3 linked regions of the Homo sapiens genome follow. The protein of the gene in region 1 interacts with the protein of each later gene in a pairwise test. Each region holds a gene or a part of one and is shown in the gene's direction. Other genes may lie near its edges.

Region 1 (2,759 bases):
AAAATGTAACATGAGATAATAGTATTTCCTTTCTTTGTTAATTTTTTTTAGACAGGGTCTTGCTCTGTCACCCAGGCTGGAGTGCAATGGTGTGATCACAGCTCACTGCAGCCTCGAGCACCTGGGCTCAAGTGATCCTCCCACCTCAGCCTCTCAAGTAGCTGGGACTACAGGTGCATGCCCAGCTAATTTTTATATTTTTGTAGAGATGAGGTTTTGCCATGTTGCCAGGCTGGTCTCAAACTCCTGGGCTCAAGCAGCCTGCCTGCCTCAGCCTCCCAATGTGCTGGGCATTACAGGTTTGAGCCACCACACCCAGCCAGTATTTTCTAATATGCAGTTCATATTAATATTTTTCTACAAAATATCTTGTGTGGCTTTTTTTTTCCCAATTAAGAATTATATGCCAGGTACAGTAGTTCACTCCTGTAATCCCAGCACTTTGGGAGGCTGAGGCAGGAGGATCTCTTGAGCCTAGGAGTTTGAGATCAGCCTGGGTAAGAGAGAGAGACCTTGTCTCTACAGAAAATACAAAAATTAGAACGGTGGCATGCACCTATAGTCTCAGCTACTTGGGAGGCTGAGGTGGGAGGATTGCTTGAGGCTGTGAGACGTGATTGTGCCACTGCACTCCAGCCTGGCTGACAGAATGAGACCCTGTTCCCACTCACCCCCCCAAAAAAAATTATATATTGTTTTCGGTTATCATGTCTATGAAGTCTCATTTAGTCTTAAACAGTCCTTTCATCTGTTAATTTTATTCCCCCATCTTTCATGGCACTGACATTTTTGACACCTCTAGGCAGAATATCCCACAGTCTGGCTTTGTCTGATGGCTTCCTCATGATTTTATTCTGGTTAAACATTTTACCAAAGTAATTTGTTTTGGTTTTGATCCTGTACATTTTTTTTTCTGTTGGCTAAATGGACTATTAATAAATACCATTGTGCCTGCTGTGACAATTTATTAAATAATCTGTGTTAATAACTTGATGATGGGCCATTCATCTCTACCTTACAGGTAGATTTCTTTTTACTTGTGAGATCATTGCTGCCCATATACTTATTATCTCAATAGCCAAGGAGCTTACTGGGCATGACTGTGTTCTCTAGTCTCCTTCAATTAGTCAGGGACATTTCTGGGATCTTGCATGCTATTTGATACCTGCAGTAGTAGGTGCACAGGAATTTTTGCTGAATATTTATTGAATTGAGGAAAATAGCTGAAACTGCTACTTGGCTCTGGATTCAGTAAGAATTTTTTTTTGTGCATCTTTTTATTGTGGTAAAATAGTTATACAAAAATTTTACCAGTTTAACCATTTTTAAGCATACAGTTCAGTGGCATTAAGCATATTCACATTTTTCTGCAATCATTACCACTATTTCCAGAACTTTTTCATCATCCCAAACTCTGTGCCCATTAAACATTAATTTTCAGTTTCCCTCTCTCCCCAGCTCTTAATGATCTGTATTCTGCTTTCTGACTACTCATACGAGCAGAATCATGTAATATCTGTTCTTTTTTGTCTACCTTATTTCACTTTGCATAATGTTTTCAAGGTTCATCCCTGTTGTAGCATAATTAAGAGTATTTTTGTTTAAACTTTGTTTCAGGCAACAGAATTTATCAAGCAGAACATTGTGATATCCAGTGGATTTGTGGGAGGCTTTTTGCTCGGACTTGCATCTTAAGGACATGAATATTCTCCCATAACGGATTCAACTATGAGAAGAGAAGTGGCAGCAATAAGGCAGTCTCTCAAAAGTCATACTGCCAGAGTCTCTAGGGCAAGGAGAAACAACTAGCTGGACAATACTCAATTCACAACTTAGCATTTTGCCATCTGAAGCTTGGCAAACTAGTATCTGCTGTAAAACAACCTATATGGTATGTGAACCGTAGTATTCCTGAGCAAAACGTGGCTTTCATCGCTTTGTAAAAATTTGCATCTGTTTAGAAACTAGCCTATAAAATATCACCATTGGATGTAGATATGGAGAGAAAAGAAATATGTTGGGTTTATTGCTTAGCGAAATATTCTCTTTTTATTTAAATAAAATGTTCTTCATTGTGTTTTATGGTATGTGTCCATAATTTAAAATTCATGTTATAGTTTCAGTATTAAGGCTGACTTTTTTTTTTTAAGATATGTTTGCAATAAGTTAAAAAACTGTAATACCCTTTTGTGGAAAGCTTTAGAAATGATATAATTATTAAAGATATTAAACAGACTCTGCTGATGTAATATGATACCAATTTTTATGTTGTTTTTTTTCCTGGAGTTATTACTTTGTTATAAGTGTAATAATTGTACATTTCTTTTTTGTTTTTTTTTTTTTTTTGAGACAGAGTCTTGCTCTGTCACCCAGGCTTGGAGTGCAGTGGCATGATCTTGGCTCACTGCATCCTCCGCCTCCCAGGTTCAAGCGATTCTTGTGCCTCAGCCTCCTGAGTAGCTGGGAGTACAGGCACGTACCACCACACTTGGCTAATTTTTGTATTTTTAGTAGAGACGAGGTTTCGCCATGTTGGCCAGGCTGGTCTCGAACCCTTGACCTCAGGTGATCCGCCCGCCTTGGCCACCCAAAGTGCTGGGATTACAGGCATGAACCACCATGCCCAGCCATAACTGTACATTTCAAAAAAGGCTCTTCTGAGGAAATACTATAACATGTCTAAAGCTCTTTTTTCTTTTTTGATGTCTGTAGTTTAAAAAATATCTTCTTATATGTAAGCTTCTAATTTTCTTGTTTGT
Region 2 (7,038 bases), on another chromosome or scaffold:
TAAGAGTATATTCTAACAGTAATATTTGTGATATTACTATTTAATCAATAAAACTCTTACATTTTCCTGTATTTTGAGCCATGTTCTCTAGCTATTCTTTGTCGTCCAAACCTATCCCAGTCCATTCTTACTGACACTTCTGTATAATTTTTCTGAACCTCATACTTTTCAATTCAAAACACTTAATTTTTTTCCAGATGGTATTTTGGCAAAATGGGGAGAAAAGATGCTGAAAGATTACTTTTGAATCCTGGAAATCAACGAGGTATTTTCTTAGTAAGAGAGAGTGAAACAACTAAAGGTATGAATATTGTTATATTAGTATAAGTATAAAATTTCTTGGGGCAGTATTTTGAGAAAGATATAGTGAAAGTATTTATTTTTCACCCAGGTGCTTATTCCCTTTCTATTCGTGATTGGGATGAGATAAGGGGTGACAATGTGAAACACTACAAAATTAGGAAACTTGACAATGGTGGATACTATATCACAACCAGAGCACAATTTGATACTCTGCAGAAATTGGTGAAACACTACACAGGTATGTGAATATTTCAAAGGTAAAAATTATTTCTTCATATTCTAGTTTATGAGGACAAAATCCATATCCTCATTTCTCTTAAGATTTAACACACTTATTTACACATAATACATGCCCAATAAATGTCTGTTGTATTCTAAAGGGAGGAACAGGTAATACTTAGTACTTGCATTGTGCTACTCAGATAATGTGCTAATAGACTCTCATCATTTGGGTCCTTATATCTTACTGGCATAGTATTTACATTGGAGTTCATTTCACCACATGTACCTTATGAAAATAAACCTAAAAGCAAATATTTATGGGCACTTAGTAAGTAAAACTAAACATTGGGTAACAGAAAAAGCTATGTCAGAAGGATTACCTTCCTCTGCATGGGCTGGATCGCATAAGCTTTCCTAAAGTATAAATCCAGTGAAATTTGGTCTGACGATGCATTTTTCTTATCCTAGAAAATTAACCTATAGCAATTATAGACATTTTTGTCTTTCAAGGACCTCTGAAGGTATTTAATATTAGAATCTTCTGTCTCAAAATTTTTCATTACCAATTTGGCATATGAATGCACCTGAAAGTCTTTACATGATTAATACTAGGAGAGGGGATGTTTCCATGGTAATGTCTTCAATGACAGCTAGCTGCAAACTGAGTCTATCAAGTCAGCCAGCAATCTTGACATTGATCAAGCATGTTACCAAGCAGTGGCATCACTTGTAATTGCCTTTGTCACAATGTGAATTTATGTGGTTATTTTAGTGAGAATAGGAGAGAACATGTCTCATTTATAATAAGAAAGATTGTATAAGCAGAATTCATAAGTCAAGCTGTTATGAATCTAGGGTTCCCTGACTTTGTGTCTCCCTTATTTAAAAAAATCAGTCTCCTGTTAGGCATGTGGATTGTGCCTTTAATCCCAACTACTGATGCAGGAGGATCACTTGAGGCCAGGAGTTCAAGAACAGCCTGGGCAACATAGCAAGACCTCATCTCTTAAAAAAAAAAAAAAAAAAAAAAAAAAGGCCAGGCGTGGTGGCTCACTCCTGTAATCCCACCACTTTGGGAGGCCGAAACAGACAGATCACTTGAGGTCAGGAGTTTGAGACCAGCCTGGGCAACATGGCAAAACCCTATCTATTAAAATATAAAAAAATTTAGCCAGGCGTGGTGGCATGCACCTGTAGGCTCAGCTACTTGGGAGGCTGAGGCAGGAGAATCACTTGAACCTGGGAGGTGGAAGTTGCAGTGAGCTGAGACCACACCACTGCACTCCATCCTGGGCGACAGAGTGAGACTCCATCTCAAAAAAAAAAAAAGAAAAAATCTCCTAAATGATCCTAAATGAACTTTTTCCTTGATTTTTTGGTATGCCTCTTACAAATTAGTGGCTATTAGATAATAACATTTAATGATAACATTCTCTTTGAGAATTAATAAAACCCAGTGTACAAAGGCAGAACTTTGGAAGCAGACAGACCTAGATTTGAATCCCATCTCTACCATTTACTAACTGCAGGGCCTTAGGGGAAAGTTGCGTATGTTTTCAAAGCTTCATTTATATATGAGATACTTGTGAAGTGCTAATTTAGCACAATAGTGGAACATACTAAGTATTTAGTAAATAATAACTTAAAAAAATATATATTTTAAGTTATACTAAGTATTTAGTAAATATACTAACATATCTACTATATATTAGTATATACATACTAAGTAGTAAATACAATATATTTACTATATATTAGTATATACATACTAAGTAGTAAGTAATAACATGTATATATATATATATTTTTTTTTTTTTCGAGTCAGAATCTCACTGTGTCACCCAGGCTAGAGTGCAGTGGCGCAATTTTGGCTCACTGCAACCTCTGCCTCCTGGGTTCATGCGATCCATCTGCCTCAGCTTCCTTAGTAGCTGAGACTACAGGCATGCACCACCATGCCCGGCTAACTTTTGTATTTTTAGTAGAGACAGTGTTTCACTGTATTGGCCAGGCTAGTCTCGAACTCCTGACCTCGTGATTCATCTGCCTCAACCTCCCAAAGTGCTGGGATTACAGACGTGAGACACCTTGCCCGGCCTTAAAAATAAATTTTACAAAATGTTTCACTTATGTATATTTCATGTTTTGCTGCTTATGGACAACTCCCTTTTTGTTTTGTGCTTTTAGAGTAAAACTCGAAAGGACTTCTGTTTTTGTTTTTCTACAGTTTAAACTTAAAACATTGATACACTATATGCCCCTTAATTTTTGTAATTGATATTACAGTATAGTTTATTCATTTATCTAGAACATGCTGATGGTTTATGCCACAAGTTGACAACTGTGTGTCCAACTGTGAAACCTCAGACTCAAGGTCTAGCAAAAGATGCTTGGGAAATCCCTCGAGAATCTTTGCGACTAGAGGTTAAACTAGGACAAGGATGTTTCGGCGAAGTGTGGATGGGTAAGAAGCCTGAATTTTTGTTTTCTGTCATTGTTTAGCTGTGGATTAAAGTGCAACAATTTATGATAAAATATGTTTCAATATTTAAGAGAAGTGCTGTTCACTGAAGTTTGGTCTAAAATCCTTTAAAATATAAATTCCTAAAATGTGTTATTTCTTTAGGAACATGGAATGGAACCACGAAAGTAGCAATCAAAACACTAAAACCAGGTACAATGATGCCAGAAGCTTTCCTTCAAGAAGCTCAGATAATGAAAAAATTAAGACATGATAAACTTGTTCCACTATATGCTGTTGTTTCTGAAGAACCAATTTACATTGTCACTGAATTTATGTCAAAAGGTATGTATTAGTATCTCCTTAGGTATTTGTGTTGATAATGTTTTTAAGAGTCTTGATTTGTATGCATATAGACTTATACTGTTTTCTAATTTAAGATTTTTATGTAGACATATTTGGATAGAAGAAACCTGACACTTTGTTTAATGGAATAGTGATTATCCAGTTATTCCAGAGGATAGTATGACGTTTAAAAGGAAAAGTAGGCAGGCTGAATTAATTTTGAAATTAAGTTTGACTAAAACAAATGGAAAAGCTAGAAAGGTGAAAAATAGAAAGTGTTTGTACACATTTAATTAAAATGATAAAATCAGAAAGATACTTACATTTTTAGTACTAAAGCAAAGAAATAAGGTAAAGTTAAAATGAATTAGTTTTCTCATTTTAATATAAACATAATTCCTATATTCAGGACTTCTAGGAACTTTTTTCCCCACTGCTTTCTTTTTTTTTTTTTTTTTAAATAGAGACTGGGGTCTCAACTATGTTGCCCAGGCTGGTCTTGAACTCCTGGCCTCAGGCAGTCCTCCCTTTTTGGCCTCCCAAAGTGCTGGTATTACCAGCATGAGCCACTGTGCCTGGCCTCCCCACTACCTTCAATGGAAGTTTCTTCATTTTCCTTAACTCTAGACCACAAGATGGGATCTTCAGTAACAGGGTTAGTTAGGGGGAGGATAAAGAGAAGATTGATACTCTTTCCTCTTTTTCCCTGTGCAGATGGTACTTAGAGGAACTAGTAAGTCAGCAGATAAGCTGACAGGCCTGATTTTTATGTGTTTGATTTCATCTGCTTTATTATTATTTTTACTCTTGAACCAATAATATACAGTAGTCACTAATTATGTCACCCTCTCCAGTGGTGTGTCTTGGTCAATGATGTAGTTCCATCTAGTGGTGACAAGGACAACTACAAGTTACATATTTGCTGTAGGAAAATTTTTCCCCTCAAAAGGGGACTGAAACCAAAAGTTAAGAAATTATACAGCCTATTAATTGATAGCCAGAACACACCTAAAGACCCAAAGCACCTGGCGCTCTTTGGAAGGAATGTCTACTGCAAACAGTTGCCAAATATGACATTTTTTTGTTTGTTTGCTTGTTTGTTTGTTGTTTTTGTTTTTTTGTGAGGTGGGGCCTCACTCTATCCCCCAGGGTGGAGTGCAGTCACATTTCTCTGCAGCTTGGACCTCCCTGGGCTCAAGCGATCCTCTCATCTCAGCCTCCTGAGTAGCTGGGATTACAGGTGCATGCCACCACACATAGATAATTTGTGTATTTTTCTACAGATGGGATTTCACCCTGTTTCCCAGGCTAGTTTGGAACTCCTGGGATCAAGCAATCAGCCTGCCTTGGCCTCCCAAAGTGCTGGGATTACAGGTGTGAGCCACCACACCCAGCCCAAATATGCCCTTTCAAAGAGTATATTAGATGAACCAGAGGGGAAGGGAGGGCCAGGCATGGTGGCTGACCTGAGCAACATGGTGAAACCCCATCTCTACAAAAACTAAAAAAATTAGCAGGACGTGGTTGCACACACATGTATTCCCTACTCAGGAGGCTGAGGCATGAGGATTGCTTGAGCCCAGGAGGTTAAGGCCATAGTGAGCTGTGATTGTGCCACTGCACTCCCATCTGGGGTGAAAAAATGAGACTGTCTCAAAAAAGAAAAAAAAAAAAAGGAGAAAAGGACAGGGAAGATGTTTAAATCAAGATATTGGAAGCAGGCCAGGCACAGTGGTTCATGCCTCCAATCCCAGCGCTTTGGGAGGCCGAGGCAGGCAGATCACTTGAGGTCAGGAGTTCGATCCCAGCCTGGCCAACATAGCGAAACCCCGTCTCTGCTAAAAATACAAAAAACAGCTGGGCGTGGTGGCTTGTGCCTGTAGTTCCAGCTGCTCGGGAGGCTGAGGCACGAGAATGGCTTGAGCTAGGGAGGCAGAGGTTGCAGTGAGCCAAGATGACACCGCTGCACTCCAGCCTGGGTGACTGAGTGAGACTCCGTTTCAAATAAATAAAGACTTTAACAATTAAAAAAGATATTGGAACATAAGAAATATAATGAAGGTAAGGCTAATAGCCCATTTAGCTCTGTATATTAATTTTAAGAATTATTTAATTGGGAGAACATGGTAAAATTCTGTGTTGTCAGACCACTGGGTACAATTATTTCCAGGCGGGAGAGATTTAGAATACAAGATAACAAAAGTCCTTTCTATTTTTAAAACTCTTTAATTCCTCATTTTGGTATTCACTTAGCACTTGTCCCTTTATAATCTGTCCAAACTCATTGTCCCATGCACTCCAGCATAAACCCACTGTTCTGCTCTTTGTTTTCATGATTTTTTCATGTTTTCTCTTTGACCTGGAATTTGGTCTCCCTAGCTCTGGACCAGTCCACCAACTACACTTCCCCGATCCAGTTTATGGTCAGGCATTCCATTTAGTTGTCATTTCTATTTAGTCTCCTTTAATCTAGAGCCATTCCTCAACCTTCCTCTGTCTTCCATAGCATTGTTACTTCTGAAGAGAATAGACCACTTTTATGTTTTAAATGTGCCTTAATTTGGTTTTGTGTGATGTTTTCTCTTGATTATAAGCCTTAACAAATAATAGTGAAGCCGTAATCAGACTTCTAGCCTTTTTCTTTGCTGTTATTCATAGTACTTTGTAGTTTTCAGAGAGAGAGCTTGGTCACAGCAGTAGTTCCACAGCGACTCATTTAGCTACCTATATTTAGTTTTAACCACACCCAAGATATTCCTAGTTGTCTGAATTCTTGATTCAGATTTACTTAAAAATATGTAAGTATTTAATACTACTTTTTGAATCAGAATTGGGATATTGATCAAAGCGAGGAAAAAATGCCTCTTGTCAGGTAAAGTTAATGCATTTTCTTTTTTTGCATGTGTTATCAGAAGTTTTCAAAATTTCAGCTTAGAGACCTCTTCTAGGACCTAGATAATTATTTGGAAACTGCAAAACTGCACAAAATTTAAAAAAAATGAAAAGCTAAGAAGTTTTGTGTTGTGATTTGGGGTGGAGGAGTATTCATTTCAATCCTAATATAAGATTTGCTTATTTTTTATGAATATCTTGCTGTCTGTTACAGGAAGCTTATTAGATTTCCTTAAGGAAGGAGATGGAAAGTATTTGAAGCTTCCACAGCTGGTTGATATGGCTGCTCAGGTATCTGTATATATACATGTATCCATTTGAATTAAAAGTGTAAATTAAAATGTGGAATAATCTTACCAGAATATTATAGTATGTGTAGTGAAATGGTGGGATTTTATTTTTATTTTTTATTTTTTAGAGACAGCGTCTCATTCTGTCACCCAGGGTGGAATGCAGTGGTGCACTGATAGCTCCGTGCTTGAAGAGCCTTGAATTCTTGGGCTCTAGCAATCCTCTCGCCTCAGCCTCCTGGGTAGCTAGGACTGCAGGCACAGGCCACCATTCCCAGCTAATTTAAAAAATTATTTTTTTTGTAGACACAGGGATCTCTCTGTGTTGCTTAGGCTAGTCTCAAAGTCCTTGGCTCAAAGGATCCTCCCACCTCAGCCTCCCAAAGTATTGGGATTACCTGGCCAATAATGGAATTTTAGAACTGGCAGGAACGTCAGAGATAATCCAATGTGAGCTCTTAATGATACAGATTAATGAAGTATCAAAAGATGAGAGGTATCTAAAATTCACAAAACTTGTTAGTA
Region 3 (6,863 bases), on another chromosome or scaffold:
ATTGACCTAAGGGCCATCTAACAAAAGAACTACTTGACAAATCCAAACTTGTCTCAGACTTCAGTGCAAGGTATCTAATCCTCTGTAATTTTAAATTCTTGCTGGATCTCTGAAGCATGTGACAGTACCCAAGTACTGTTTCTCACATACTGGTTATATGACATCCCAAAAGAATCCTATCTCCTCGTTCTCTTAGACAACTAGTCTTTGCAAAACAAACTTTAAGACATATCTTTTAAGTTTTACTGAAAGAATTGCACTGAACAATTGTCCAACTAAAATCTTATAAAATAAATAATAAGGCACTGGAGTTAATCATTACAAAAGAACATAGGATACATTTTCATTTAAGAAGTCGTTACTTTCCGTCTTTATGGAGGAATATAGAGCTATCATTGTAATGCCCCACTTAAGTCACAAATCATTACAAAAAATGAGTAAGATTTAGTAAGTACGAATTCTATTAATGGTGCTTATGATTTTATATAAAGTGAAACTTGTTATTAATTAGTTCTTCATTATGTGATTTCTGTCTCTTTATGAAATTAGTGGAAGAAATAAAATTGTTAACATTTTTGGATGAGACTACAGTCTGAAGTTCAGATTATGGTTCTTCTATTATTTTGGACAAGCTGTTAAAATTCGTATTCATTTCTTATACTTTCACTGCTGCAATTTATTGACTGCCTTGACAGAATATGATGTAAAAGGAAATTTCAGAAGATTGTGACTTTTTATATCAGAAAAGAGGAAGAGAAACCTATTTTGAAAGGACCTAGAATAATATTAAAAATGAAAGGCTGAAACAAATGGCTCATTCTTGCTTCTCATTATTTAAAACAAAATACCATAATTATTTTTCTAATTTCCAGAGAAACTCCCTCACTAATTTCATTATTTCAAGCCCACACCTAAGATGAAGTTAAACTGAAGTTAACATCAAACAGGTATGTATGTTATCTAATGTCCATTTTTCCAGTGCTTTTATCCTTCTCAATTACAGAGCATACTACATCCTCGTTCAATAATAAATATAAATTAGAAGACAGTAGCATTCAATGAAATCACATCGTAATAACCACTAATGTTTATTAAGCACTTAATACTTGCCATGCACTGAGCTAAACAGATTATCTAAAAAGATGAATTTAATCCTCATGACAAATAATCCCGACAGATTAATGTATTGATATTTTCATTTTACATACAGATAAGGAAACTGAGGCCTAGCAAAATTATGTGGCCACACAGCTATTAAGTGATAAAATCAGGCAACATAATGAAGTATTTGAAAGTAACCATAGTTAGGGACATGATTCATTTCTCTCCAAAGCTAGAAATATGTCTGGTCAGGTACTGTGGAAAGGTCTGGTCTTCACCTGCTGCACAGCTTTAGCAGATTTTATAGTAATAGTGGCAAGATCCCTCAATCATTAAAGAGTAAGCAATTGTTACTTAAGCTTTATACCTTTAGGTAGATTCTTTCAAATGGATAAACACTTACATAACAAGAACCAAGAGTCAAATGAATCCCAGAGGTAAGGAACAAGTGTGATGTGGGAGGATATTAGTTTTATGAGGATTTGAAAAACTGCAGTTATTCCTAAGGGAGGCACCACCGGCACTTGTGTGTGTGTATGCAAACGACTGTGTAGAAGACAATTCCCTTTATGTTGTACAGCGCTGTCACATATGTCACAATACATTTAGTATCCGTTAACTGCTCCCCCTCCCAAATACTAGAAGTTCTCTCAATCCTTGTGACTACCCAATATATATATCCCTACACATGTTCTGCTGACCCTGACAGAGAACCTTGATTGTTGGATAAAAATACTGGGAGAGAAGTAACTGACATGAATTGTACATTGTGCTCCAGGGACTCTGCTAAATGCATTCACACACATTCATTTAATTTTCATAACCCTATATAAGTAGATATTTCATCCCCATTTTACGAGTGTGGCCCCTGAGGCTCAGAGCAAGGTTATGCAACTTAATTAAGGACACACAGCCAGTTTTGAAACCAAAAGTGTGGCTCAAAAACTACTCTACTCTAAGTTGGCCTTTTAAGCCATAATGGTGAGAGAGGTGTGACTTCCCTTTCTTTAAAGAGGTTCATTCAGAAAGTATAAATCATTCTAAGTAGGAACCACGGTGTGTACCTCCTTATGAACCAAGGATGAATTAGTTCTCTAGGTTAGGAATGAGGAGCCACAGGCGCAGTGCCAGAGTTAACATGAGGTGTGTTCAAGATTTGGGCTGGGCAGCTCCTATGAACCGGTATATATTAGAATGTGTGTGTATGTTTTCCAGGGAATAAGAGAGTTGTGTTATGCTGTGTGAGGTTTATGTGTTTCATTTAACACACAGCAGTTACTATACCCCAGGCACCATTAAAATTGCTGGACAAGATCACATTTCAGCACGTATGTTAGGTAATGAGTGAGCAGGGTATGCACCGCGTGATGTGTGGCGGGCTGGTGTCTGTGCAGCCATGTACACAGATGATGGGTATTGGGCTGTGCTGGAAAGGAAAGGTCCGCTGTGAGGTGTGTGTTTAGAGTGGCAGTTTGTGCCGTGGTACAGATGGTAGTGTTTGAGGCTGGGGGAAGTGTTATGCTGGATGACTTGTGTGCAATGCATACGGGAAGTGCTGCACAGGAAAGACCGTGTATGCAGCACACATGTGCATTTTTTGTGCGTTACGGATAGTGCCGAATACCGGAGTTCCACAGGAAGGGATCTAGGTTGTGTCCTGGGCCTGTGTATGGTGCCTGCAGGCGCTGTGGATTGGGGTGCTTTGTATGTGTAGCGGTGTGTGCTGAAAGTGGTGCATACGACATGATTCATGCGGTGTGCTGGGTAGGGACGAAGGCTGGAGCAGTGCAGAGGAGGGGCCCGCGTCGTGATGTTGTGTGGAGCGATGCTGAGTGCGGTGGGTGAGGGGGCGATCGTGCTAGGTGACTCGCGTGCGTTCCCCGTGTAACCGGAGGCGCTGTATGGAGAAGGGGCACTGAGGGGTAGGGGAGCAGGCTAGCGTACTGTGAGACACCGGGCGGGCGGAGGGGCCGCGTGGGCGGCGGGCTGCCAGTGCGTGTGCGTGGAGCAGCCAGCCCACTTCCTCACCCAGAGCCATGCCGGGCCCCCCTCCCCGCCACCCTCCCTCCCGCCTCTTCCCTAGCCCTTGGACGCGCCCCCCGCTCGGCTGGGCCGCCCCACCTGGTAAAGGCGAAGTACATGAGGCTGACGATGGTGAAGCTGAGCAGGGTGATGGTATGCGGCCGGTAGAAGAAGTCAATGGTGATGTCCTCCACTTGCTGCTCGTTGATCATCCGGAAATGCATTTTGTAGTTCACATCATCCTTGCTTAGGGTCCGGCTCCCCACGCAGGACGCCATGGCCCGCCTCCCCGTCCTGCCGCGGTGGCGGCGGCCCCAGCCCGAGAAGGCCGGGACCCCGGGGGTGACTAGCCACAGTAGGCTAATAGCCGGACGGCAAAGCCGGGTCTGGCGCCCAGCAAAGGCTGGGAGCAGAGGGAAGGACAGGCGCGAGAGGGCGGGGTCGCGGCGCCGCCACCGCGGCCTGGGGCAGGGGACGCCGCCGGCCGTCCCCACGCTGTCATCCTAGCTGAGGCATCTCTACCACTCGAGGAATTTTCAGACTCCAAGTCCACAGGACTTCAGAGGAATAGCGAGCCGGAGAAGGGTAGCCGGGGCCCCTGGCTGGCTCTTTTCAGAGCACGTAGCCCGCTGTCTCCCCGCGTAACCCGGCACATGGTCTCGCCCACTCCGGGCGCGGCCCACGTGGGCCCGGGAGCGCGGCTGCGCTGTGTAGGGCGGGCTGAGGAGCCGGCGTGCGGCGCGGCGGGACGGGACGTGCGGCCCAGCGAGTTGGTCGGTCCCGGGGTCACCCGCTACGGGAAGCAGGCCTCGCCACAGGTAAAGCAGGAGCTGCCCCAGCACGAGGATCGCGCTCCTGGCGAGGGTTCAGGTTCCGGCGCACCCGCGTCCAGACCGCGCCCCAGGGCCTCAAGGGCCTTTAGGTTTTCGCGGCCCAGTAGAGGGTGATTGGTTTTGTTTTGTGTTTTTCCCTGGCTGATGTAGTGAAAACTCAACCATGCTGGCTAATTAGCGCAGTGTGAGAAGCCTCAGGAGGGGGCTCTGCCTTCCTGCGCAAGTTTGGGGAACTGAAGTGGGCTAAAATGGCCTGGGAAGTATTGAGAGACCCTTTATTAGGAAGCTGCCCCCATAACCTCCCTTTCTCTCCTGATTTCATTTATAGCATTTCGTAGGTAGAAATCTTGAACTCTATTTCAGTGCCTTTTTCTAGCGAAGCACTAGGCACTCATTGAGAACAGTATATATGAATTGTTAAGAGACTTCAGTTTCTTTAAGGGTTTTCTGTAATTTTCCTGATGAAAGGACCTTGTTAGAAGACTTCAGGTTACCACCTTACAGGGCTTTTATACACATCTGCACATCCCCTACCCGCTTTTGCATACTGTGTAAGCAAGTGAGTTAACTGTACTTGCCATTGATTTATTTCCATTCCGCAAACATTAGAGCAGTACAAGGCTCTGGGAAAGTGGAGAATAGTCCCCGGAAGGATGGATCCAGGGATGAGACCCAGCTCTGCTCTCGTGCATGAACAGTTAATCAATTGTTAAGATGTGTAGGCAGCAATGAAAGGATGTGGAGAAGATAGTGCACTTGTAAATAAAAATGCAAGGATAAACATTAGTTGTATGCACAAAGATCTTTTAATGACGGGGTGAAATTTGAAAGTGAGTCTTCCTGATGTTTAAGTGGTATTGAGTGTGGAAAGGCTTCAGGATGAATTTGGGATTTCAGGAGTTTGAAGTAGGATGAAGTGCTTAGACGTCAAAAAATGTTAGAGCTGATAGGGGCCTTAAGAATCATCTTATTGTACCCCTAGCCTTTTAAAAAAGCATTATTTGAAGAATAGTTATTGACCCCACCCCCACCCCCCACATCATGGGCTAGACTGCTGCTTTTGTTAGACTGCTGCCAGAAACAGCCTTGTCAAGGTAGCACAACCGAGGTCTTCTGACTTTCAATTTAGTGCCCTTATGACTACCGTGCAGAGAATGAATGTTGTAGGTTTGAGGGAAAACTTGGCACATTTGGAGTCCCATTTCCCACCAAAATCTAACAGAAACCACCTATCCCAGCAGGGTATTGTGAATACTTACTTCTTTTCTAAAATCATCGCAGAATGGGCCGAGCGCAGTGGCTCACGCCTGTAATCCCAGCACTTTGGGAAGCTGGGTGGATCACCTGAGGTAAGGAGTTCGAGGCCAGCCTGGCCAAGATGGTGAAACCCCGTCTCTACTAAAAACACAAAAAATTAGCCGGGCATAGTAGCGGGCGTGGGTAATCCCAGCTACTCGGGAGGCTGAGGCAGGAGAATCACTTGAACCTGGGAGGCAGAGGTTGCAGTGAGCCAAGATGGTGCCGTTGTACTCCAGCCTGGGCAACAAGGGCGAAACTCCGTCTCAAAAAAAATAATAATAATAATAATAATAAATAATTGCAGAATGAAAGGAAACTTTCACTTTTGTAAAATCTCTTTCAGCAAACTTCCCAAAACTACAGATCTCCAAGAAAAGATTAGACCCTCAAGTATTTGGTCTAATTTAGAGCATAAAACAAGCTGAATTCCAGTATGCAGAAAAACAAAGTATAAAGTTGTAGGCAGCAATTAATTCAGCAGAATTTTTGTATTTGGTTGTGTAACCAATAATAATGGCTAACATTTATTGAGCATTTCTTATATCCTGACTCCATCCTGTGTTTTATATGGATAATGTTATTTAACGTAAGATTATATGCATCAAATTTACCTTTCTAATTAGCTGGCTAAATATAAAATCCCTTCATATTCCTGGAGTTTAACATAGCACTAGCCTTTCCTGATAAAAATATTTTTGAAAACTACTTTTTCAGTCAAAATATACAGGTATTAATTGCTGGTTGCTTATTTATTTCTGTCACTTGGTTTTGTTACTAGTTTTGACCTTTTCTTTTTGAAGGCTTTTTTCTCCTTTCCTACAGTGAAACAAAACTTGACAAAACTGGTTTTGTTCAATTCCCTTTGGAAGAACAGCTTTATCTGTGAAGTAATCAACAGTGTTCAGCCCTGAGAATGAAGCAAGAAACTGCTTTCACTGTTCTGTATATCAATGATAATATTTTGATGATTTGTTTAGGACACAGTAGATTTCTGTTTTTTCATTTTGGGACAAATTTATATACATAAAATGCATTTGAATAATTCAGTGTTACTTTGATCAGCAATGTGCTGCGGAAACACCCTTCACACCAAATTTCAAGAACACTTATTTGCATCAGCTTATTCTCTTTAAATGATTAAATTAACAGATTAGTGAGGTCTGCTGTCACTTGAACATTTGCAGATTTTTGTTTTAAGCATTTTTCTTACACCAGTGTCATTGCATTTTGTTTTTAAATTGTAAAGTATATCTTTATTTTTCCACTCAGAAGTTCCTGTCTGTTGGTTTGTAACTGAGATTGCCTTGTTGTTGGCTTTTCCTGTACATAAGAAACATCTCACTATTTTAGACTAAATATATATTTAAACACCTTTCAATTAGAAAAAAATAATTTCCAGTTTATCTTTTTGTTGTTTGAATACCGTTTTAAACATTTAAGTAAATTAAATTTCTCTTCTTTTGACGGTTATATCTTTCCTTTGTAGACTAAGAAAAATGGCTTTGTCAGCCCAACAGATACCCAGATGGTTTAACTCAGTTAAGTTGAGGAGCCTCATTAATGCTGCACAACTCACAAAACGTTTTACTAGACCAGCAAGAACACTGT

What was found. The genes of interacting proteins can lie anywhere in the genome.
Region 2: the proteins of FUNDC1 (region 1) and YES1 interact in binary tests that used the Homo sapiens proteins (3 or more experiments, as listed by UniProt).
Region 3: the proteins of FUNDC1 (region 1) and MTERF3 interact in binary tests that used the Homo sapiens proteins (3 or more experiments, as listed by UniProt).

The regions. Positions count from the first base shown.
Region 1 is NC_000023.11:44,523,134-44,525,892, reverse strand, and holds the end of FUNDC1 (FUN14 domain-containing protein 1), read left to right. Parts: intron 1-1,617; coding exon 1,618-1,695; 3' UTR 1,696-2,254; downstream 2,255-2,759. UniProt on the Homo sapiens protein: Integral mitochondrial outer-membrane protein that mediates the formation of mitochondria-associated endoplasmic reticulum membranes (MAMs).
Region 2 is NC_000018.10:739,211-746,248, reverse strand, and holds part of YES1 (tyrosine-protein kinase Yes), read left to right. Parts: intron 1-197; coding exon 198-301; intron 302-391; coding exon 392-541; intron 542-2,833; coding exon 2,834-2,989; intron 2,990-3,151; coding exon 3,152-3,331; intron 3,332-6,437; coding exon 6,438-6,514; intron 6,515-7,038. UniProt on the Homo sapiens protein: Non-receptor protein tyrosine kinase that is involved in the regulation of cell growth and survival, apoptosis, cell-cell adhesion, cytoskeleton remodeling, and differentiation.
Region 3 is NC_000008.11:96,258,579-96,265,441, reverse strand, and holds the start of MTERF3 (transcription termination factor 3, mitochondrial isoform 1 precursor), read left to right. Parts: upstream 1-3,831; 5' UTR 3,832-3,941; intron 3,942-6,741; 5' UTR 6,742-6,751; coding exon 6,752-6,863. Other genes in the region: PTDSS1 (phosphatidylserine synthase 1), read right to left, coding at 3,223-3,401.